Regions from separate parts of the Homo sapiens genome. Here region 1 is linked to region 2. Evidence: fine-mapped expression QTL. A gene starts in region 2. The other region holds a variant in brackets. All regions are shown on one strand. Distances are from middle to middle.

Evidence for each region. PIP is the estimated chance that this variant, and not a neighbour inherited with it, causes the effect.
Region 1: its variant is fine-mapped to the expression of ZNNT1 in whole blood (TOPMed, PIP above 0.99). The same link has a PIP of 0.9 or more in lung and unexposed skin.

What each region holds. Positions count from the first base shown.
Region 1 is chr8:101,191,918-101,203,986 of GRCh38, reverse strand. ZNF706 (zinc finger protein 706) reads left to right here. Exons shown (of 4, transcript NM_016096.5): 2 at 2,244-2,380; 3 at 3,890-3,997; 4 at 4,748-6,935. The coding sequence starts at 2,246. The coding sequence ends at 3,985. Among named protein-coding and RNA genes, the nearest start is that of ZNF706, 7.7 kb to the left of the region's middle. The variant A/G (reference allele first, on the strand shown) is at 4,709.
Region 2 is chr8:101,162,740-101,174,808 of GRCh38, reverse strand. It overlaps ZNNT1 (ZNF706 neighboring transcript 1), which reads left to right and starts at 4,570. Exons shown (of 1, transcript NR_164368.1): 1 at 4,570-8,004. RefSeq lists enhancers at 7,329-7,528, 8,114-8,408.

The DNA.
Region 1 (12,069 bases), 29 kb before region 2:
AACCTTGCAAAACATTGGTATACATAAAGGCTGATCACGTGACTACTGTCGTCCAAATAATACATAAGTATCCAAACCTGTTTCCATGGGAATAGGTTTGTAAGCTTGCGGTAACATCGGACTTAAATACACTTTTAAAAAAAATGTGCCATTTGGCTTAGAATTAATAATTTTTTTTAAAGCAAAAATGGAAGCTTAGTCTTCAAGGACTGATAACAGCTGGTAATATTTACCATTGTTTGGTGGGAATGGGGTTCTCATATTAGGCTAGCACGCTAAACATTTTCAATTACGAAAATGTATTAGGCTCGTGTGCTACCCTAATATAAAAACCCCATATTTCCTCAGTTGAAATAGTCAGCTGACTATCCTGAAAAGCATTGACCCTCTTTTATATTTTATCTGACTTTCAGTTCATTTTTTTAATGCTAGTGGGAACTTCTCCAATCAGTGTATTTTTTTAGTTTCCTTTTTTGGGGAACAGGAGGAGCTCAGTAATTTTTATGAAATGCTTTGACCTCATATCCATTAACTAATTATGGTCCTAGTCAGAAGAAGCTAGCACCCTTCCCTGGTGAAGTTGATACAAATCCATTGTATGTTCCTGTCCTGCAATGATTTACATTCAGTTACAGTACTAGTCAAAACTATATATATATGAATTCTACTTAGGATCCAATTTTGATATATTTAAAAAGCAATTGAGACTCATGATAGACTTTATGAGCAGGTTTAACTTGTGTGGTCGAATAAAAGCCTTTAATTTAAATGGAAAAGTAAAAGTAACTTTTTTCAGTGACTTGATTTTTTTTTTTGTTTTAATCCATTTGGGTTCACGTCAGATCATCGGTAACAAAAAGTGGTATCTTTCAGCTTTGTAAAAGAACCCTCTTAACCAAGTTCATTCCCTCAAATGGGAACTAACGTCTAGAGAGCAAAGAAACTTCTGGAATTAGTGGCTTGCTGATAATCTCATTTTATAATTTGTTCAGCAATCCAGCAAGACCAACTTTTTAAAAAAATTAATAACAGTAGTTTTATGAAAACTAAGTAAGAAAACAGTTTCCACCTATTTCTGAGGTCTCCTTTAGAAGGAGTAACAGACAGCTTTTATTTCTCTTAAAGTTATAAAAATCACAATCGCAAGTCACAATGAATACTGGGAAGGGAAATTACTTTTGCAGAGTGATCAAGTAAATGATAGCGGGGGCTAAACTTTTTTAGTAAACTTGTGAAGATTACATACAGTAAAGTGCATAAATCTTGAGTGTACAATTCAATGAATTTTTATAAGTAAACACACTTGATTCAAGAACATTTTCAGGACCCCATAAGTCCCCTTCATGTCCTGTCTTCCCAGTCATTACCCATAACCCCCAAGGTGACCCCTTTCACTATAGATTAGCTTTGCCTGTTTTGAACTTTAAATAATGTATATTCCCCACAACTGGCTTCTTTCCTTTAACATTGAGATACAACCAAGTTGTTACTTGTAACAATTTTTTGTTTGTGTGTTTGTTTATTTATTTTTGAGACCAGAGTCTCACTGTCGCCCAGGCTGCAGTGCAGTGGTGCCATCACGCGTCACTGCAACCTCTGCCTCCCGGATTCAAGCAATTCTCCACCTCAGCCTCCCAAGTAGCTGGAATTACAGGTGCCTACCACCATGCCTGCCTAATTTTTTTTTTTTTTTTTTTTTTTTGTATTTTTAGTAGAGACAGGGTTTCACCATCTTGGCCAGGCTGGTCTTGAACTCCTGACCTCATGATCCACCCGCCTTGGCTTTCCAAAGTGCTGGGATTACAGGCGTGAGCCACCGCGCCTGGCCACAATTTTTTAAATGCTGGGTAGTATTCCGTTGTATAAATACTATAAAAATATGTATACAAGTTGTGCATCCGTGTTACTATTGATGGGCATTCAGATTTTTTCCAGTTTTGGAATGGGCACTCAGAACATTTTGTACATGTCTTGGTGTACATAACATTTGCATTTCTATTGGGTATATACCAAGAGTGGAATTGCTGGCTCATAGAATAAACAGCTACCAACTAGTTTTCCACAGGGTTGTGTCAATTGATACTTTTGTAGCATTTATATGTGGGAATTTTAATACCTATAAATTTTTATTTGCCAGATATTTCTATAAAACTTAAGGCTTCAATTCTAAGAACGTTCTTATGCTTTGATTACTCTGTATTAGAGTAAATAAGCCACTCTAATGCTTCACCTTCTGTTTTTAGATATGGCTCGTGGACAGCAGAAAATTCAGTCTCAGCAGAAAAATGCCAAAAAGCAAGCTGGACAAAAGAAGAAACAAGGACATGACCAAAAGGCTGCTGCCAAAGCTGCCTTAATATATACCTGCACTGTCTGTAGGGTAAGGGGAATTGAATTGAAAGATACAGCTCTCCCGTGGGCAGTTTTGGCTTGAATAGATTAAAATTTTGAAACCATGGCAAAATAGATGCTTTACATGAAATAGTAGGTTTGAGAGCTGATTATTTTAGGTATCTATTTTCATTCACCCTTTAAACAAATATTTTTTGAATGGCTCCTGTGGCCAGGCAAAAATCTCTAGGTGCTGGGAAAACAGAGTGAACAAAACAAAATTGCTTTCCTCATATAAAATAAAGATGTCTTCATAAGGGCATATAATACACTTCACTAGCACATCATATAACTCTACACTCTTAGAGCTATATAATATGCTAGTAAGTATACCTCTAGTTATATAATTGGTTTTTTCTTCACTAAATTTATAATTAGGATGTCTGTAAAACCATATAGAGTATAATCACGTTGAGAGCTTTTCCTAGAATTAATGTGTTGTATTAGATTTGAAGAACTGTAATAATAACAGCTACTTTTGAGTGCTTACCATATGCCACACATAGAGCCAGGTGTTTTACATGTATTCACCTATTTAATCCACATAACAACCCTATAAGATAAAGTACTTTTATTGTTCTCATTTTACAGAAGAGTAAACTGACTAATGGAAATTAAACAATTTGTGTGGGGTCTCCCAGCTGGTTAGTAGAAGAGCTGGAATCTGAACTCAGGCAGTTCAGCTCCAGAGTCCACCCTCTGGACCACTACTGTACTGCCTCTCAAAGAAGTACTTCTGAAATTCCAAATCAGAGCCTCTTGCCTGTTTGTTTAAGCTCATTACCCTTGAAGTTAGTGAGTGGCAGTACCAAAGGAAACCATAGTGGAGTTAGTACACTACATATACACTCAAAATAATGAAATTGAGCAGCTTGTGATTGTTTGGAAAGAGGCAGGGTGCAAATTTTAATCAACTAGTAATGAAGAAATACCTTAATCTAAATGTGGTAGAGTAGTTACATATATTTAAAAACTCAAAACCACAGACTTTTATTTCATATTTTGTGTAATTTAATGGGTTAAGAATAAATAATTGAAGGTTCTTGCCAAGGGAAGTCAGTATAGTATAGTATTTGAGAGGTCACATATCTAGTACTAAGTTAAAATAAGGTCTTGGGCAAATTAAACTCTGGGTTTTAGTTTCCTTATCAGGTAAAATGATGCTAGTAGGAGCTAAAGATTACTTTGAAGGTTCTGTGGGAATTAAGGTAACATGCTTAATATAATAAGGGTTCAGTAAATGTTACCTATTGTTTGCTGTTAATCAGATAAGCAGAATACATTCTATGTGACCTACCTTTCTTTATAGGTGAAATGTGGGAACGTTAGGAATTTCTTTACCACAAAGTCCCTCTTCATATGCCAGTCACTAAGTTGTAGGAATTTAAAGGTGTTTTTGGGATAATTGTCTATACTGAGAAGGTTCAGGATTCTAAAAAGTAACACATTTTTATTTTATAAATAAAGTCTAGCTCTCTTTTGCACAATTTTTTGTTAGACACAAATGCCAGACCCTAAGACCTTCAAGCAGCACTTTGAGAGCAAGCATCCTAAGACTCCACTTCCTCCAGAATTAGCTGATGTTCAGGCATAAGGTTGTTTACAGGTAACTCACCTCTTTTTCTATTGGTTTGTTAATAACAGGGTTGTATACAAGACCAAAACTGTCTTCACTTATTGTGAAATTAATTTCTGCCTTCTGAGATTTTATTGCTTCCCCTTTTTAAGTTAATGTGTAACTGAAAAGTCCCTTTTTCTCAGACTATTTCCTTTCAATGCCTTTGAAACATCCAAATTTTTACTACTGTAGCCAAAAATGGGGAGATGAGTACATGCTAGCCATCTCTGATCAAAGAATGGAAGGAACTTATCAGTTTAAAGAAAATAGTGATTACAAAGTTATTTGAGAGTTTCCCTCTAAAAACAATGTACACCAATGTTCCTGAGCACCTCTTTACAATTAGTTTACTTATAGTACTTAGCAGAGGTTCTTTTTTTTCTCCCCCAACCTATCCCCTTAGCAAAGCTTCTGAGTATTAAAATATAGGGCAAAATGTAGATGTAGATATGTGCTATATAAATTTGTTTATAAATTTGTTGGTTGAAAGTTATCACTTTACACATTACATTTGGTTGGATTTTTTCCCCCTAAATAGTGGAGTTGGTGGTGGGTGTGTTGTGTGTTTCAGAATTCTTTCTTTTTAAAATAAATTCTTCAGAGTTCTGTATATAAAGTCGAGTTGACAAGTTTACCAGATATTATCTTCATAGTGTTTCTTCTTAGTTATTTGAAATGCATGTAAGTTGCATTTGTGCA[A/G]TGGTAACATTCATTGAAAATTTTGCTTATGTTTTATAGGTGAATTCATGACACCTTTGACTCTTCTACTGTCTCAGACCTTAGGTAACATACCTGCAGCTGCTTTTCTAACAAACTGTTGATCAGCAAAAATAAAGGGGCTACAGAAACACTCATTTTTATGCTGTTCCCTCTTGGGCTTCATGCAAAGACAATTCTGTGTAAATGTACAGTTGACTCTGATTTGGAAATATGAAAATCAGTCCATCCTTGTTATAAAAAATTTTTTTACAATTGTAATTATATTGATGTTCATATTGTGTAAAATAACTCATTTAATAAAATAGTACTTTGATTTACGACATCACAGGATAAATGGTTTTAGAAATTCTGTTCTAACTTTCCACATTATTTGCCTTATAAAAATCTAATGAATTCATCAGCTAGAATTGCAAGTGCAATTCTTATATCCCTTTCTCTGCTCAGTGGCAGGTTCCTCAGTTAAACTAGAGCAGACTGATTCATTAAAATTGTGCATACGATTTTATGGGCAGCTGATGATCTAGGTGAAAAATGACTTATCTGCTGCCTTAGTATATTGCGGTTATGTGTCATTGTACCCCTCTGATCATTTCCTGTGTTTGAGTTGGAATATTTAAAATTGCAGTATGACCTGGCTCTAACTGCCAGTCAGGTGTACCCTGTAGATAACTGATAGCTTCCTAAAAGCGGTTGGATTGTCAGTGAGCCCTTGTGAAAGGTTAGGTTCTAATGTATATGCCGTAATGAAATAATCATTAAGCCTATTGTTTAATGCAAAATATGGAACAAATGTGAACTGGTAAAGGTCGATCTTGATACTATATTCTTTGAAAATTCTTGAAGTTCTTTAATTTGAAATTGAAACATTAATTTTTGAGGTTTTTGGAAGTTACTATTTGGCCATTTTTACAAATGGATTTTGCATTAACAGGAAGATTGGAATGACTTGTGGCTGGATTAATTCCCAGAACCCTCTCCCTCCTTTCTTTTCTAAGTGAGTTGTTGATTTTAGGAGTTTGCTTTGTGCTGTTACCTAAAATCAGAGACTGGTGTACAGTATGACTTCCATCTGAACTTGAAAAGTATTAAAATGGGTCAATATTCACATTCTTTTAGATCTCAGGATGGGAAAATGGGTTTGTTCAGATGGATATGGTAAATCTTACCCAATTAAGGAAGGCTAATTTTAGAGTTCTTCTAATTTGCTTGTGTCAACTCTTAACTTGTAAAACTGCTGTTAACTCGGTTTAAATTTTTAAATTAATATAATAGAAAGAACACTAAAATACTTACTGGTAACTGCTTAGAGCCATTTATCTGATCCTGTGGATTACAGAATGCATTCCCTCTTCTGCTGTAGCTTATCATTGCTTTGTTTTGTAGCTCTGCATATTTTGCCCACCTTGTCTTCCCTGTAAGTTTAAGACGTTTCCAAGGAAAAGCTTCAGGGCTGATAGTTTCTTAGCAATTCCTATTCTTATGCCCTTACTTTAAAATAGTCCTTTTATTTTGTGTATTTTATTTCCTAAGTTTCAGATGTAATATCTGTTGTTTCCTAACATGTCGATTACCAGAACGTTAGAATTTTACCTAATTTCTTGTGGATATTGCAGAAGTTCTGGTTAAATCACAACTTAAAAGTTTTTAAAAGTGCTTTGAGCATATGTATATGTTTAGTGACAAATCATATAAAACCATTCACAAGTTTTGGTTTTTTTTTTTTCGTTTGTTTTAGTGACTAATTCAGGATGAAAGTTTTTTTGTTCTTGTATTTAACCCTTTTTTATAAGCAGCTGAAGACACCATATTTAACACTATATCTCAGTGATAGGGAAATAGCTGCATTGATCTTACATGAGCATAATCATCCTTATACTTCATGAGGGGATTATTAGTACAATCCCCATTTTACTGTGTTTGAGTTAAAAACCAAACATCCCTGTAATTTAATTTGAAGATTCTTTAACAGATTGCAGCAAAGTTCATTATAAAACTGTTATGGTGTCTTCAAAGACTTGATAAAATAACACTGAGAGAGAATTGGTCCATTTGTATGCTGTATTTCTATTACTTGCCAAAAGGAATGGGGTTAAGATTAAACTTGTTTCCATTCTCTTCACATGGATATTCATCCCCATGTTTAACTGACACACTGGGGGCTCAGTTGTGTGCTGTAATGTCTTATTAAAGAAGATATTAAAGAAAACTAAACTAGTCTAATTTCTTCTACATTTTAAGAGGTTTTTATATTCCCACTTTTTTTTTTCTCCTTTCTGAGCTTAGAATTGGCTCTTAAGTATAGGTTGGTAGATTTGAGGGTAGCAAGAGATTTCTTTCATTTCTCGTTTTCCCTGCAGTCTTTCCCTTTTTGAGGTCTGTAGAATACTTGGGTGGAAAAAAACTTGTCATTTTGAAACCTTACTGTATAGAATAAGTGTGAATTGTTGGAAAGGGGGAAGTGATTGGCTATTAACATAAAAATACAATTATGAAAAATACTTAGGTCAGTTAATTGAATTGGATGGGTAAGTCCTTGATGATATTGTAAGATTTGAAGTTTTAGTTTTATATTAAAGATACTATATAGGTAATTAATGACATCATAATTCAAACCTGAGATGCAGCATAAGATAGAATTTATCAACATTACTATTTTACCTAGGAAAACCCATGTTTTTAATTTTCATTAATATATGTAATGTGGCCAGGTGCAGTGGCTCACGCCTGTAATCGCAGCACTTTGGGAGGCTGAGGTGGATGGATCACTTGAGGTCAGGAGTTCGAGACCAGCCTGGCCAACATGGCAAGACCCCATCTCTACTAAAAATACAAAAATTAGCGGGGCCTAGTAGCACATGCTTATAATCCCAGCTACTCAGGAAGCTCAGGCAGGAGAATGGCTTGAACCCGGGAGGCGGAGGTTACAGTGAGCCAAGATCTTACCATTGCACTTCAGCCTGGGCAACAGAGCGAGACTCACTCTCTCTCTCTCTCTCTCTCTCTCTCTCTCTCCATATATATATATATATAATATACTGTACCTATTTTTAAATGTGGATAAAGGCCTTTTTCTATAACACAGTGATCAAACACAGTCCAAACTATAACTGAAATACTATATTTAAACCACCCAGTCTGAATTAATTCATTTGTACTAGATTTCTGGTTTTTTGGAAAGTGTTTGGTTTAGTTTTGGTCAGAGTACTTTTTTGGTCATGTACTTTTTAACAGTATATGGCAATGAAGATCAACACCAGGGAGTTGTGTTTACTGTGACTTCACATTCTGAAATAGTTTAGGCTACCTTAATTTTATTTATTGTAAAAGTTTCAGAAAAATCTTAAGAGCCTTCAGTTTGTAGGTTTAATGAAAACATCTGTCTACTTAACAAAGAAAATAGACTTTTTTAAATAAAAGTTCAACCTGTCATTTTTAATTGTAGATTGCCATGTTAAATTGAAAATATTTTTTATTTTAAATGTTGTTTTGATAAGTTTTTTTTACTGAGGTATCCTTCTTTTTTTTTTTTTTGAATAGCCATTTTTTAGCTTCTATTCTTTGAATACCGTATGGCTCCAAATTTAAAATCTGCACATTCGGAGACAGACTTTGGTCATTTCTTTATATTCACATGGGAATATCTTCAGTATGAAGTAATTGTTAATTCTGTCATTAACTAATATTATTTGAGGGTTGTAGGGAGGAAGAATATCTTTATCCCAGATCTTTCTAGGATGAACTCTTTGAGAAGTTTAAGTCACTAAGGTATTTATTGAAAATCATATATGTGAAGTTGCATTGTGAGCTGTAAAGTATTATATAAAAGCAATGTATTATACAAAGAAATATAGCAAAGTTCCCTAATCTTTGGAAATTCAGATGCATTCTGGAGATAATACATATATTTATTTACATAATTTTAGGCTATATGGCCAAGTGCTTGGTGTGTTTTATAGACAATAACTTAATGAGGTATATGTACATGTGTGCGTTTATGTGTATATAGGATGGCTTTGGGTTGAAGAGGGCAGTCTGTGCCTGGAAGTATGGGGAGTCAGCTGAGGGAGGAGTAGGAAGGAATAGGGAAATCAAGGTGTGGGTGGCTGATTGAGCAAAAGTACATAAAGTTTCTTTGAGAGAAAGTGAGTAGGCAAGCCCGAGCACAAGGCTTGTGAATGAGAGCCTTTGATCCCGTGGATGAGAGTGGGGAGAATCGTTAGAATGGGACCAGATTGTGCAATGCGTGCACACTGCAGAAAATTGTTCAAATTACTCCTGACACTGGGGACTCTTTCAGGGTTTGGGAACGGGAGTGACATGATGAAAGTATGTCAGGAAGATTTATATTAATGAAATACTGTGTCGATACTGGTTTGATGGAGATCTTCTTACAACCTCTTGTATGTTTCTCTATTTAACAGTTTACTATCATAATACAACTTTTGGTTATTCTAGGTTATTATGAATATAGATTAATGGGCAAGAATTTTGCTGTGCTCTAATGCAGTGATACTACTAATGCCCAAAAAGCTGTATTTAGGGATGTTTGTCCCTGCACTAAATAACCCCAGACTATAGTGTGGCTATACACGACATTTCTTGTCTTCTACTTCACTATAAAAGTAACACATTTTGAAATATATCTCATATATAAAAATGTGAAGACTGTGGTAAGGTTGGATTTTACAAATTGACCAGTACAAAACATTTTGAGGAATAGTATCCATGTCTGTCTCTCTCTCTCTCTCTCATTCTTACCACATAGATTTTTTTAAATTAATGCATGTTTTTGAATTTTGTAGTCACTTTTTTCATATTATGTCTTTGTACTCTGCCATTTCATTTAACAACATAACAGGTGGGTTTTTCGTGTTATAAACTGTGCTAAGTGGAATTTTTGTGGCTGCATAATGATCCATTGGGTAGATTACCTGTAGTTTTTTTTAACCATTTTCCTGTTGTAGGACATTTAGGTTTTCTCTTATTTGTGCAGAAGGCTTCATTTCTACATTTAGAATTACACATCATAAAACTTTAAAGCTCTTCTGAAAAGTGTACAATACTTTATTAAAATAGCAAATGAGAGAGAACCAGAGTTGCAGACCGTATAGTATATAGGACCAGGCAATACTTGACCAATGATGTTTTGCATGTTACTGCATTACCTTTGTTTGAATACTAGCACTTTTTCCTGAATTTGGTAGGTTAACCCTTGTATATTTCCTTGATTTCTAGTGGAGCAGGAATATTTTAACTGCATTTGTTAGCCAGATACAGTTACTATTTTGTGAATTGTCCATTGCCCATTTATTTGTTGGGGCCTTCTGACTATATTCAATCTGCTATCCACAGTAAACTTGGAACAACTGAGAGTTGCCAGGAAACACCAGATAACTAGAGTTATGAAACCTGTAACTTATTTTACACAGAGAACAAAATTGTAGGCTCTGTCTGAACCACTTGCTGGAAGCCTTAACTATCAGATAAAGTATAAATCCACAGTTTGCATTTAAGGCATATTTTTTATTCAAGACTATTGAAATATGTTTTTTATTGTTACCTGACTACTATGAAGAAATAGTATTTTTATTAGATTAAGTCAGTTTAGTAAGTTACAGTAACAAAATAACCTTTCATGTTTGGGATCTGTCTTTTATTAGGTTCTATTATTTAATATTTATGTATGCGGATTTTCATAGTAACAAAATAGACTGTATTTAAGCCTTGCTTTGAATAGCCAGGAACATTTCTGATAGCAACAGAGTTTCTTACTTAAATAGGATAGAAAATGGCCAAACATAAGAATTTAAAGCTGTAGTCGAATGACCCAGTGAGAAAAATGGAAAACACCTAAGTTCAAATCTGGCTCTGCTTTTTCCTTTCTCATTTTGGACAGGTTACTTCACCTTTCTGAGTTGCATTATCTTTAGTCACCTTATAAAATGCAGGAACTGGCCAGGTGTGGTGGCACATACCTGTAATCCCAGCACTTTGGGAGGCCGAGGCGGGTGGATCACGAGGTCAGGAGTTCAAGACCAGCCTGGCCAAGATGGTGAAACCCAGTCTCTACTAAAAATACAAAAATTAGCCAGGTGTGGTGGCAGGCGCCTGTAATCCCAGCTACTTGGGAGGCTGAGGCAGAGAATTCCTTGAACCTGGGAGGCAGAGGTTGCAGTGAGCTGAGATCGTGCCACTACGCTCCAGCCTGGGCAACAGAGTGAGACTCTGTCTCAAAAAAAAAAAAAAAAAAATACAGAAACTAATACCTCCCTCAAATGATTGTTTTAAGTTAACAAGCAAATGAAATAATGAGTATAAACACCACCTGTGCAATCATAAATGCTCAATAGCTGTTAGCTTTCTTCCCACTGTCTTCCTATCCCTCCTCCCTCTACTGAAATTAACACAGTGTGTCTTTACACATACCCTTCTCACATTTGCCCATTTCTGCTTGTGCTTTTTCGTAGGACTAAAATGCTCTCTCTTCTCCCCCACTCAACCCTGGTCTCTTGCTGTGGAAATGCTACTTACTCTTCAGGGCTCAACTCGAATGCTGATTTTTTTTTTTTTTTCCATGAACCTCAGCACTTAAATGTACTAATGTGGGAAAAGGAATATACAGTAATAAATATGAAAGAAGACTACAAACTATAAAAAAATAGTGTCAGGAGACTAAATTTTAGAAGGGCAAAAAGTTCCTGAAAAATAGTAAAGGAAGTTTATTTACTTGTTTTCAGTTAAGTAGTAATAACAAGGAATGAGTGTTAGCACTCCCTGAGCAACTCCTATTCATTTGCTGTGTATTTTGTAAAACTCTCATTGTGAAAATGAACCCAATATGATGAAATACTAAAAGGACATATGATTTCACTGGATTTTTACTTGGCTTTGATGAATTATGACTCAGAAGGCTATAGGAATTTGCAGAATTTGACATTAAGTCTGAACCAGTGTCAGTCTAGGAAAGTGATACGGACAGGAAGCTATCCAGAAGACTGGAGATAAGTAATTTGTGTCTTGATTTTCTAAAAAGCACAAAAGACAATATTGAAAATGCAGAATTGTAAGTGTACCCTTGGTCTCTAGGTAAATAAGTACGTTATCTTTTTACTGTGACTCTCCTTTTTCCTCAATTAGGCCTTGGACTAATTTCATGTGTAGTTTTATTTCTAGTCTTTTTCCCTTGTCACGTTTGTTTTCTTTGCGACAAGAGAAATTCTTCTAAAACACAGTTCAAGTCACAACCCTCTCCTCTGAAGCACTTAGGTGCTCTCCCTGGCCCACCAGATGAACACATACTCCTGGGTTGTAATTGACAGGTCCTCCACAGTCTGACCCCA
Region 2 (12,069 bases):
ATACTTTTGCTTTGACTGGAGCACTTAACACCTCTTGGTAGCCATTGCTTTGATTGTGCTTTGTCTTCAGGATTGTACTGGTAAAGCCATATTTCATCTCTTGTTACTTCAAAGAAATGCTTCAGGATCTTGATGTTACTTGTTTCCAATTTTCATTGAAAGCTCTGCTTTTGTCTGCAGATGATCTAGAAGCAATGGTTTTGGCATACATTGTGGGAAAGTTTGCTCAACTTTGATTTTTTCAGTCAGAATTGTGTAAGCTGAATCAATTGAGTTGTCTGTGGTGTTGACTATTGTTTCTGCTGTTAATTATCAGTCCTCTTTAACTAGGGCATGAAAAAGATGAATTTTTTCCTCACAAATTGATGTGGATGGCTTGCCACTATGGGCTTCATCTTCAACATCATCTCATCCCTTCTTAAAACGAGTTACCCATTTGTAAATTGCTGATTTCTTTGGGACATTATACTCCTAAAGTTTTCATAAAGCATCAGTGGTTTCACCATTCTTTCACTCAAGTGTCACCGTAAACTTGACACATTTGTTCTTGCTTCAATTTTAGCAAAATTCATGTTCCTCTCACAGGGGCTGTTTTCAAGCTGATGTCTTACCCTTCTGGGAGCCTCACACTAGATTCTGTTCAGACATGTTATAAAAAGTTAGTATGAGTTTATCTGGCAAAAAAAAAAAAAAAATTTGAATACATGCATAGTTTTCTCATAATATATATTTTCCATGAACTTTTGAAAACTTCTTGAGATATACACACAAGCCCAACATAGATTCTTCCACATTACTCTTTTCTAAAGCCTCTTTATCCCCATAATTCCATAAAATAATATATAACAGACTTGGCTTTGGCTTATTGGACTCTTAGTCCAACTTAGTTGTTTTTCAGCTTTAACTTTGGTGACTCATTTGTGCTCAGTTCTGATTCAGACAATGGAAAACTATTTTAGCAAGAGCTGAACTGATTTTTATTCCCCTGTTGATGTCCAAAGCTCAGCCCACCGTCATGCACTGTGCATTCACATTCTCTGTTTCTGCAAGCTTTGCTGGCCAATTTCACCAACGAACGTTGAATTGACCAAACATGTACTAAGTGCATTCTGCAGACATAACGGAGACTGAATTTTGGAGATCTTTGCTTCCCAAAGAATCCCCTGAAAAAAAAAATTTTTTTTTTACTTCTACTAAGTAGCCCAGTTTTCCAATCACATGAATTTTCTGGAATATTTTTGGAGAGAAGCAGATTTATTGAAGAGCTGTTCTTTTTTACCCCAGATATAGACAAAGTTAAATTTATTCTCTGAATATAAATCATCAGAGTAAGAAGGTAAGATTTAGTCAAGAAGATACATTTGTTGGACTATGGGTTCATCTGTGTGCAACAGAGACCTAAAGTTTCAATGGCTTAAGCAGTATTGAGGTTTATTTATCTTCCATGACAGCGTGAGAGTTTGCAGCCAAAGACTAGTATGGCGGGTCCATGGTGTCAAGGACTGCCAGGTATCTCCCATCTTATTGCTTCATTATCTCTAGGGGATGGCCCTCATCTGCATGGTCCAGGCAGGAAAGAGGAGGATAGGAATAACCCCACCCCAGAGGCTGCACCCAGCACTTCCCCTTACATACACACACACACACACACACACACACACACACACATTCCAGCTGCAAGGAAGGCTGGGAAATGTCTTTATTTTGTACAATCAGTAAAAACTGAGATTCTATCAATAAAGAAGGAGGGCAGACATTGGAGAAAAACTAGTAGACTTTCCAACATATTCCTGAAAAATTTTAAATTTCAGAAGGGGCTATAGGTGGGCCAGGCAGGAAAGAATCATTATCTCACCCAAAGAATGACATCGGGCTTCAAGTATCTAAGCCACCATCAAAAAGGCTGGTGCTCTTCCAGGTTTTTCTTTAAAGGGCATCTGTCAGGCTGGGGAGAACACTTCTCTAGGTGGCCTTGAGCCAGTATTATTGGCCCACTCAATCAGAGCTGCCCTGCAGCCTCGTTAGCACATCACAAGAACCCAGAGTGGAATTCTGGGATGGAAGAGCTGGACAGAAAGTGGAGAGAGAAGGTCCTCCCAGCGGCAAAGCTAATTAAAAGGAGAAACCTGTTTTCCACATGCACTCCTCAATATGCACACATGCTGCTTTCTTGTCATTACATGCCTCACTTGTCACCAAAGCATTTTCAATCAATTCCTGGGTGTTGTTCTTGTATCTTTAGATTTAGCGCATTCTTTCTTTAGTGCTCCTCCCTTTTATTCATCCAGCTGCTTAGAACAGTTTTCTTCAGCATTTAAACAAACCCACATACATTCCCCTCCCCCCATTTTCTTTTTTAAACAAAGCAAATGCTGCTTTCTTTTAACCGAAATAAAAGAGCCATAGACAATTCCATCTTTTAGGTCCACATGGCAGATCTCAAGTCAAGCATTCATTTTCTACCTGTGTGGAACTTTAATTAGTTTAAGTGGGAGGTCTGTGCCAAGAAACAGGCACCACATCACAGTTGGAATCTGCAGAGCAGATTGTTTTCTCTTAATAATGCTCTTTCAAACTCAATCCCGCTTGCAGTTTTGATACCAAAAACATGTGTGTTAAACAGCTACGAGTCGTTTCCGGGTCATTCGCATTAACCATGAGCTCTCCTGACAGTCTTGACCCATAACAGCAGACCTCTGTGTTTGAAGTGCTGTATAATTTACAAAGGACTGCACACACATCGTCACATGTCAGCTGCACACTTAGCCTGCTAGGAAATAATATCGCCCCCATTTTGGTGATGAAAAAATTGAGTCGTGGAATGGTTAAGTGACAGAATGAACTGAAACTGGATCCAGTCTGTCTGTGTTGCTAATGTAAGATGTTAAAGAACTGTCTATGGTTAAAAGAGAATGAGTATCTATTTTTAACAATGTGCTAAATGTTCTTTTCTTCTTTCCATGGTCCAAGATTGTCCTAAACTTTGATTTGATATAATTATTTTCCACAATCCTCTAAGTCAGGCTTTGAAATTCTTCTCTGCCTCTGGGTCTTAGTTTGCTTTGAGGTAAGGATGGCCAGTGTGGATCTTTCTTATATAATCTCTAGGTCTTATATTTTAGTTTCCTACCTGAAAATTTGTGATGCCACTTTTAATCTACGACGGTAAAGGAAAACAATTTCTCTTATATGCTATTTAAGAGTTAGGTATTTAAGATTAAAGGAACTATGTATAAATATCACTTATCCAGAAGTCTTCTGAATATTTCATTTCTCATGGAAATGCTGGATGTTTTTAAGCAACATTATCCATTATAAAACAATTCAAAAAGGGGGAAGAAAATCCTACAAAGATAACAAAAACTGTGAGGTTTTTTTTGTATGAAGTAGCCAATTTTCACAAAAAGTGCTGTTAGCGGTTTATAACACTGCTAGGAAATGTATTTTATATTAAAAATCGCTAACAGCACAGTCATTGTTTTCAAGATGCTTTAGAATGGGAAGAAATGTTCAATCTTTTTAACGTGTATCGGCATGTATAGGGTGTACTCTTTTAAAGAAAAATTTCAACTATTATAAAATCTAAGAAACTTTAAAACTGTGTCATTTATAATGTAAAATTAATGCAGCTGAGATTCAGTGGTTGACTCATAGCTCCCACATTCATCTTCAGTTCTCTTTAGCTCATATGGTTTTCTTTAAAAATTAGTGATATCAGCTAAATGGAACTATTTTCCACTCCTACCCACAGAGAAAAGTGCTTTTGTGAACATGTCAGCTCTGTTCCATCATTACATGCCATCATGCAGTGCAACAGAAGCAGGCTGGCTGTGCATACTTGATAACCAATATTAGTACAGATTTGAGAGCAAAATCCAAAGAAGATAATACTGTATTTCCATCTATTTATTTTATGCACATAAGCCACCTTTTTAGAACCAAGGAATTTTATAGCTAGACAAGATCTTGGAAGTCTTCCAATCTAGCCTCTTTATTTTGTACATATGGAAACTGAGGCACAAAGAGGTTCAGCAACTTCCCCAAGGTCACATAGCTGGTAGAGGTAGGCTGGGACTAGAACCCAGGTCTGTGTGACTCCAAAGTCTGTGCTCCTCCCACTATACTGCTTCACAGATAGGAGCTGATCTGCCTCAAATCTTCTGCCCCTTGGCCTTTCCACAACTCTGCATTGCTGCCATCTAACAGTGCCTTCCACTGGTGCCATGCTAAAGCTCGTTAGGAGGCAACTTAACATTGTTCTGTAAAAGCTCTACAGATGTAGGATGCTAGCTATCTGTTCTCCCCGGAAATCTTTTCAATTCAATTCTGCAAATAACTTAGGCTTTCCCAGACTAAGCAGTTCCTTCTCTCATTCCTGCAATTTGCTTTCCAGTTACCTTCTTCTGGACACATTCATTTCCAGTGCCCCTTCTGTTAAAATGGGCCCCACTAGAATCTCTGTTGCTGGGCACGGTGGCTCACGCCTGTAATCCCGGCACTTTGGGAGGCTGAGGCGGGTGGATCACCTGAGGTGGGGAGTTCAAGACCAGCCTGACCAACATGAAGAAACCCCATCTCTACTAAAAATACAAAATTAGGCAGACATGGTGGCACGTGCTTGTAATCCCACCTACTTGGGAGGCTAAGGCAGGAGAATCGCTTGAGCCCGGGAAGCTGAGGTTGTGGTGAGCCAAGATCGCTTCATTGCACTCTAGCCTGGACAACAAGAGCGAAACTCCGTCTCAAAAAGAAAAAAAAAATTGGCCCCACTCAAAATGGTACTCCTCCAAGTTGCTTTTTCATCCTTGTATTCCCCATGGTCATTCATCCCACTGCTGTCCTTCTGTCTCCAAGTCCTCTTTGCCTTGCTTCCTTCCCTCTCAACCCACAGCATCAGAGCAGTTTCTCCCCCAGCTGACCCTCTTTCCACTTTCAGTGCTCAATATTTTTTACTTTGCCTGTGGAAATGATCTCTTAACTGGTTTCCTTAAGTCCCTCCAGAAATGTTTTTCTAAACTCCAACAACTGTGCAAGGTCTAATTGCCATTGGTTTATCACCCACTGGACCCAGAAGCACCATCCTGGATTCTGCTTCTGCATACCCCTGTCAGCTCTGTGTCTTTAGGGACATCATTTAAACCTTCAGCTTCACTTTCTCCACTTATAGAATGAAGATGAGGAACAAGAACATCAATCTTTGAAATGATGCCAAGTATAAGCCTCTGTGTGTGTGTCTCCCCACTCCAATTTGTCCAACAGACTGCTTCCAAAGAAATCTTCCTAAAACACTGACCATCTTTTTTTTTTTTTTTTTTGGCTGCAAAATCTTTCATTTCCTCATCCCCTCACATAACTTCCAATCTTCTTGGCCTGGCACTAAGGACCTACTACAGACTGGCACTGAAATATCTTCCCTACCTTATCATTCCTTGTGCTTCTCCACAAGCCCACTCTTCCCCTTCATCATACATGTGCCGACCTTTCCTGTCTCTTTTACTTTGCAGCACCAAATGCTTTCTACTTTGTGGTCTAGGAGGAACACATGTCACTTTTGTAAGCTGCTCGAAAGCAGGGGCCACACCTTCATCCTTGTTTTCCACACAACACCAAGCACTTAGTAGACACCCAATAAATCATTGCTGAATGAATGTATTCAGCCTGGAATTGCACTAGGATTTTTTGGCCAACACATTGTATTCTTAACTGATACCAGACTTCCAATCAAATAAAATCCTTAAGCCTTTTTCATAGTCTTTAATTAAACTACTTCTCTTCCATTATTTCCCTTTGCCTACTTTTGAACTGATATTCAGAACTTTTCTGTTAATGTTTAATTTTCATCCATTATTCTTGTCTGTACAGATCTTTTTGATTTTTGACTCTCTTATCTAGTTTTTTTTTTTTTTTTTTGGCTTCCCGTTGTGTTATCCACAGGCACAATGGGTATATTGACTATCGTTCATTGAAGTTGTTGATACAAATGTTGAACAGGAGAAAAACCAGTAGCTTGCCAACTTGGCACCTCATTCTCTAGCTTGACAGTAATCTCTTATCTAGTAGTTTTTAGATATGGTTATTTAATCAAATATCACTAGCTTCTAATTTTGTTATAATTCATTCATGTATACAGACAATGAAGAATCATCTTTCTTCATTCAACACATTTATTGGGAACCAATCATTGTCCAAGGCAATATGCTAGGCATTGTGTAATAGAAAGCGATTAAGCTTTTACCCCTGTCCTCTTTGGCCTGCAAAGAGCAGGTAAGATTCATGCACAGACAAATGTAGTACCAGGTAAATAGTGAGGCCAAACACAAGAGGCAGGTCAAAGGGCTTTGGATTCAGAGGATGGAGAAGCTCTTTCTAGGCTGGTGAAATATTTGCAGAATGAGTAGGCTCATAAGTGGAGGTGAGGTACAGGCTAAGCTGCTGTAAGAAAGAGTCCAAAATGCAAAGGATTTACCACAATGCAGTTAATTTTTCTCACAACGGTCGAGGTAGGCAGGTGGTCCAAGTCCAGTTAATCAGCCCTCCTCAACACAAGGCTTCCCCTTGTAAGCTCAGGATGACCGCTCCAGTTCTCATCATCTCCCAGGCAGAAAAACGGGAGAAAGAGAACTAGACGTACCACCCAGTCATTTTAAGGACATAGCCAGGCCAGGTGCAGTGACTCACATCTGTAATCCAAGCACTTTGGGAGGTCGAGGCTGGAGGATAGCTTGAAGCCAGGAGTTTGAGACCAGCTTGGATAAGAAAGCAAGACCTTGTCTCTACAAAAAATTTAAAAATTAACCATGTGTGGTGGTGTGCACCTATAGTCCCAGCTACTCAGGAGGCTGAGGTGGAAGGATCACTTGAGCACAGGAGTTGGAGGATACAGTGAGCCATGATCACACCACCTCACTCCAGCCTGGGCAACATAGTGAGACCCCATCTCTTTAAAAAACAAAACAAAAAAACATCACCAGGAAGTTGCTTACATGTCTTCTATTCCTATAACATCGGCCTGAGCTTAGTCACATGGCCACACCCAGCAGAAAGAACTCTAGGAAATATGGTCTTATGCTAGGTAACCCCAAACCCAGCTAAAACTGTTGCTTTTGAAGAAGGGTGAAACAGACAATGTGGAGGAGAATTACCAGTCTGCCACAAAGAGAAAGAATTCTATGTGAGGAAAACGCTCTAGAAGAGGGAGCTGATTAATTAGTTATATCTCAGCCGAGAGGATGTTATGAGAAACACAGATTTGGGTTTAATAGAAAAACTTAGAACCCTTCAAGAAGGAATGGGCGGACTTGAGAGTGTCCTCCGCTTCTGAAAATGATCAAGAAAAATGGTAAGAATGTACACCTCAAGGGTGGATGGTAAAGGTCAGCCTTTAAGCCTCAATGGCGGTGTGGTTGTAGGTGGGGTGGGGGTGGAGGCCCCGAAGACAGGCAGACTACCACAGTAGCCCCGATGGAAGCAGTGAGAATGAACTGGAAGGAGCGGCTGTGGGAGCGACAACGTGATGAGAATAAACCCGGCTTGGCTCTGCCCTGTGCACACACAGGTGAGCTGTGTGCTCCCGGATGTGTCAGCTGGTATATGCGTCTGTCAGAAGGCAGCTGGGGAGCACTGTTAGCTCAGAGACTAAGAGGCAGACCCAGGAAGCCCTTCTTTGCATTGGTCAGGGTTTGCTGCATTTTCCCAAGCCCAGGAAATGGAACCCAGTTCTTCTTCTTTCTGTGTAAAATAATAAGCATCACAATAGGCTGTGCTCATGAGAACGCATTTTGTTTCCACAGAAATGTTTTTTCTCACTCTGTCCTGATTTTGATTTCTGTTAAACTCAGTAAACACATTACCAAATTTTAAAATAAGGTGACTTGTTTTCCCCAACTCACAGTTCACCAAAGGTATTTCATCTGTTTGTTCTGAAAATGCAGCTGCTGTCTAGATTTATGTGTGCTCTGACAAGAAATGTTTTGTGTAACAATAAAAATCATTTCCTTTGATGAATACTGTTGTTGCTTTGTGTTTTAAGAATGATATTTCATGTCTGTTCCATAGTAGCATTGCCCCCACTAAGCAAATTCTACAGGAGACCAGTTTGTGTTCCAGACCAAGGGAGCTGAAGCTTCTAACTCCTAACAGCCATGCAGGGCCTTGTCTAAAGAATCAGAGTCATAGGCAGCCATCTTTGTCAAGCAGATCCCTTGGTGGGGGGCGAACAGGAGGAGGCATGACTGGAGGTCCTCCAGTGGTGGCGCCCTCGCCCACATCCCTCTGTTGCACTCCTTAAATGCCCGGATGCTGCATAAAGGCTTTGGCCCTTCCTCTCAGGGCTTGTAAGCCACAAAATGATGTCACAGTGGGGAAGATGCTGAGGACATCAGTGAGAACCAGGAGCAGGCAGAGCCTGAACCCCAGCCCGGAAGGAAGGGGGAGGGAACAGAATACAGCTTTCTAGAAAGAGAGGAGAGGCTGAAGGCACAGCTAGGGAATACGCATGCACTTCCTTGGGCCTCAAGTGGGCCAGACTCGCGCCCGTGGAAGCTGTGTGACGGGGAGCAAAGAACACAGGCTTTGGAGGCAAGTCTCCTGAGTTCACTCTAGCTGTATGACCTTGGCCAAGGTTGTTAGCCTTTCTGTGCCTCAGTTTCCCTATATTCAAAATGAGCGTAAGAATAGTATCTATCTGCAGGCATTGTCTGGAGGATTAAGTGACTGGATATATCTGAGACAGAGGCTGTCAGTAATCCTACACTACCCTCTTCCTTCTTTTTCTATAGTAATAGACTCCCAGTTTTCAGCTGTGCCAATGGCTGCCCAGGATAAAGACTCTACTTCCCAGCCTCCCTTGCAACTATGTGTGGCTGTATAACTGTGCCTGGCCAATGAATTATAAGCAGATGCTATCTGGCAGCTACCTGGGAAGGGCAGCTGGCATGTACTCTTTTTTTTTTTTTTTTTTTTTTGAGACAGTCTTGCTTGTCACCCAGGCTAGAGTGCAGTGGCACAGTCTCAGCTCACTGCAACCTCTGCCTCCTGGGTTCAAGCGATTCTTATGCCTCAGTCTCCTGAATAGCTGGGCTTACATACATGTGCCACCACGCCCTGCTAATTTTTGTATTTTCAGTAGAGACAGGGTTTCACCATCTTGGCCAGGCTGGTTTCAAACTCCTGACCTTAAGTGATCTGCCCACCTCGGCCTCTCAAAGTGCTGGGATTACAGGCGTGAGCCGCCACACCAGTTTGGTATATACTCTACTCCCTTTTTTTCTTTGCACCGTCTAGTCTGCTGTCTGGAAGGTGGATGTGATGTCTGATGTTCTAGTTGCTTTTTTGGCCTGTGGGGATGAGGACAACACCCTAAGAATGAGGAACTGTGTCCCTGAAGAAGGAACCTGTGTCCCTGAAGACTTTATGAGTAAAGCCACTATACCAGTCCTTGGCTACTTATTTCTGTGCTTTTACATGAGAGAGAGAAAATAGCTATCTTATTTAAGCCACTGTTATTTGGGCTCCTTATTACTCATGGTTGAACCTAATCTTAACCTACACCATGTGCAGAACACTTAAAGTGATGGCTGGCACACAATAAGCAATTCCGTAAGTGTTGGATAAGTGTTGTTATTTTGTGTCAAATAATGGATAAGGTGAAGCCAAATTATGAAAGGGCTTGCAAATCAAGGAGAAAAGTTTGCCCTTGATGCAAGGCGAAGCTTCTATCTGTTGCTTCTAAAATATGATTTGAGAAAAATTAAAGTGACCCATAATCACTAGGACCATCCCAAAAAGATAAAAGGCAAGAGCTATGAAAAGCAGGGGAAATAATTTTACCTGACCCTAGGCTAAGAATAGTTATTACAATTGTGCATAAAATATAGCTCTGGGCCGGGCGCAGTGGCTCACGCCTGTAATCCCAGCACTTTGGGAGGCCAAGGCGGGCAGATCCCCTGAGGTTGGGAGGTCAAGACCAGCCTGACCTACATGGAGAAACCCCGTCTCTACTAAAAATACAAAATTAGCCAGGCGTGGTGGCGCATGCGTGTAATCCCAGCTACTCGGGAGGCTGAGGCAAGAGAATTGCTTGAACCCAGGAGGCAGAGGTTGTGGTGAGCTAACACCATTGCACTCCAGCCTGGGCAACAAGAGCTGAAACTCTTTTTTTGAAACTCCATCTCAAAAAAAAAAAAAAAAAAAAAAAAAAAATATATATATATATATATATATATATATATCTCTGAATTGCTTGGCTGTTTTGGCTCTAAAAGATGGAAGCATTTTCAGGCTTTCAAGCAGAGTTTTCCTGTTGTGCAAGGACTTTGTAAGGCAGTTCATGCTAGCACTTCTGTGTAGAAAAGATTGGATGGGGAAGAAATAAGATTCCATTAAGGAAGCCATTGCAAGAACCCAACTATGAAGTGATGAAGGGTGATGATGGTGCAATGGAAATCAGGGAAGAGATACGGAAGATGATTCAAAGGAGCTTCAGAGGACCTGACAAGGATTAGCGATGGGGATAAAGGAAATGCAAATGTAAAAAGTGATTACAGTTTCACATGTGAGCAATTATCGTAGTCAGATGTCCGCTACTATAATGCTATGTAACAAACAATCGCATAATCTCAGTCCATTACTACAATAAATATTTATTGCTTATGGGTGTGCAGGTTGGCTGTGACTCTCTTGGGTGGCTGGAACCAGACAGACTTGGCTCCAGGCTACTAGTTGTGTTTAGGTTTATTCCAAGTGTCGCCTCATTCTGGGACCAGAGGCTATTCAGGTAGATTCATCTTGTGGCAGATGGCAGAAGTGCAAGAGGCAAAGCCAAGCCCCAAAAGCACATTTAAAGCCTCTGCTCACATCACTTCTACTAATGTTTCTATGAGTCGAAGTGAGTTACATGGTTTGAGAATATAGGGATCAACAAAATCAGTTGCTCCTATACTCTCATTCAACAATAAACACAGAAGACTTCTGTGACCTCTGGTCACCAAGAAGTATGTGGGGATTTCTTCCCACCAGCAACCAATGTATCAGTTCTGCAGCAGACACCAGCAGAATTTTCTAATTCAATTCAATTCTGATCCTATCTACCTGGAGATAGCATCAGATGCCACAGGGTGAGGGTTCAGCCTCACAAGACGACCAGTCGCAAGTAATAGGTTGTCTCCTATACTTCTCTCCAATTGGCTGTAAATTGAGGCTTCCATGACCTCCTCCTTGCACTTGATTAATTTGTTAGTATTGCTCACAGAACTTGGGAAAAATTCTTGTAGTTACTGCTGTAAACCAAAAACAAAATTCTAAGGCCCCTCAACCATCTGAATGGGCCTCCTCCTCTAGGCCAGAGCACTCCAAATTTAACCTGAAAGACTGGTTCAAGCCATGACTGGAGGGAGGTCGAACATGCCTCATTATGACCTCCTCCCTTTTGGAATTCAGGAAAAGCCAACCAGCTTAACATCAACACAGACCTTAAGTCTGACAAGAAACATTTACAGTCTATTCTTAAAGCCTGCTACCTGGAGCCTTCATCTCCATGATAAAACTTTAGTCTCTATGACCTCTCATCTTAAGCCAGATATTCCTTTTTATTGGTAATAACTCTTTCAACCAATTGCCAATCAGAAAAATTTTAAATCTACCTATAACCTCAAACCCCACCTCCTTTGGGTTGTCTCACCTTTCTGAACTGGACCAATATATATCTTAAATGTATCTGATTGATGTTTCATGTCTCCCTGAAATGTATAAAAAATTAAGCTGCATCCTGACCACCACGGACACATGGGTTCTCAGAGTCTCCAGAGGGCTTTGTCGTGGGCCATTGGTCACTCATGCTTGGCTCAGAATGTCTCACGTGCGTCCGTGTGAAGAGACCACCAAACAGGCTTTGTGTGAGCAACAAGGCTGTTTATTTCACCTGGGTGCAGGTGGGCTGAGTCCAAAAAGAGAGTCAGCAAAGGGTGGTGGATTGTCATTAGTTCTTACAGGTTTTGGGATAGGCGGTGGAGTTAGGAGCAATGTTTTGTGGGCAGGGGGTGGATCTCACAAAGTACATTCTCAAGGGTGGGG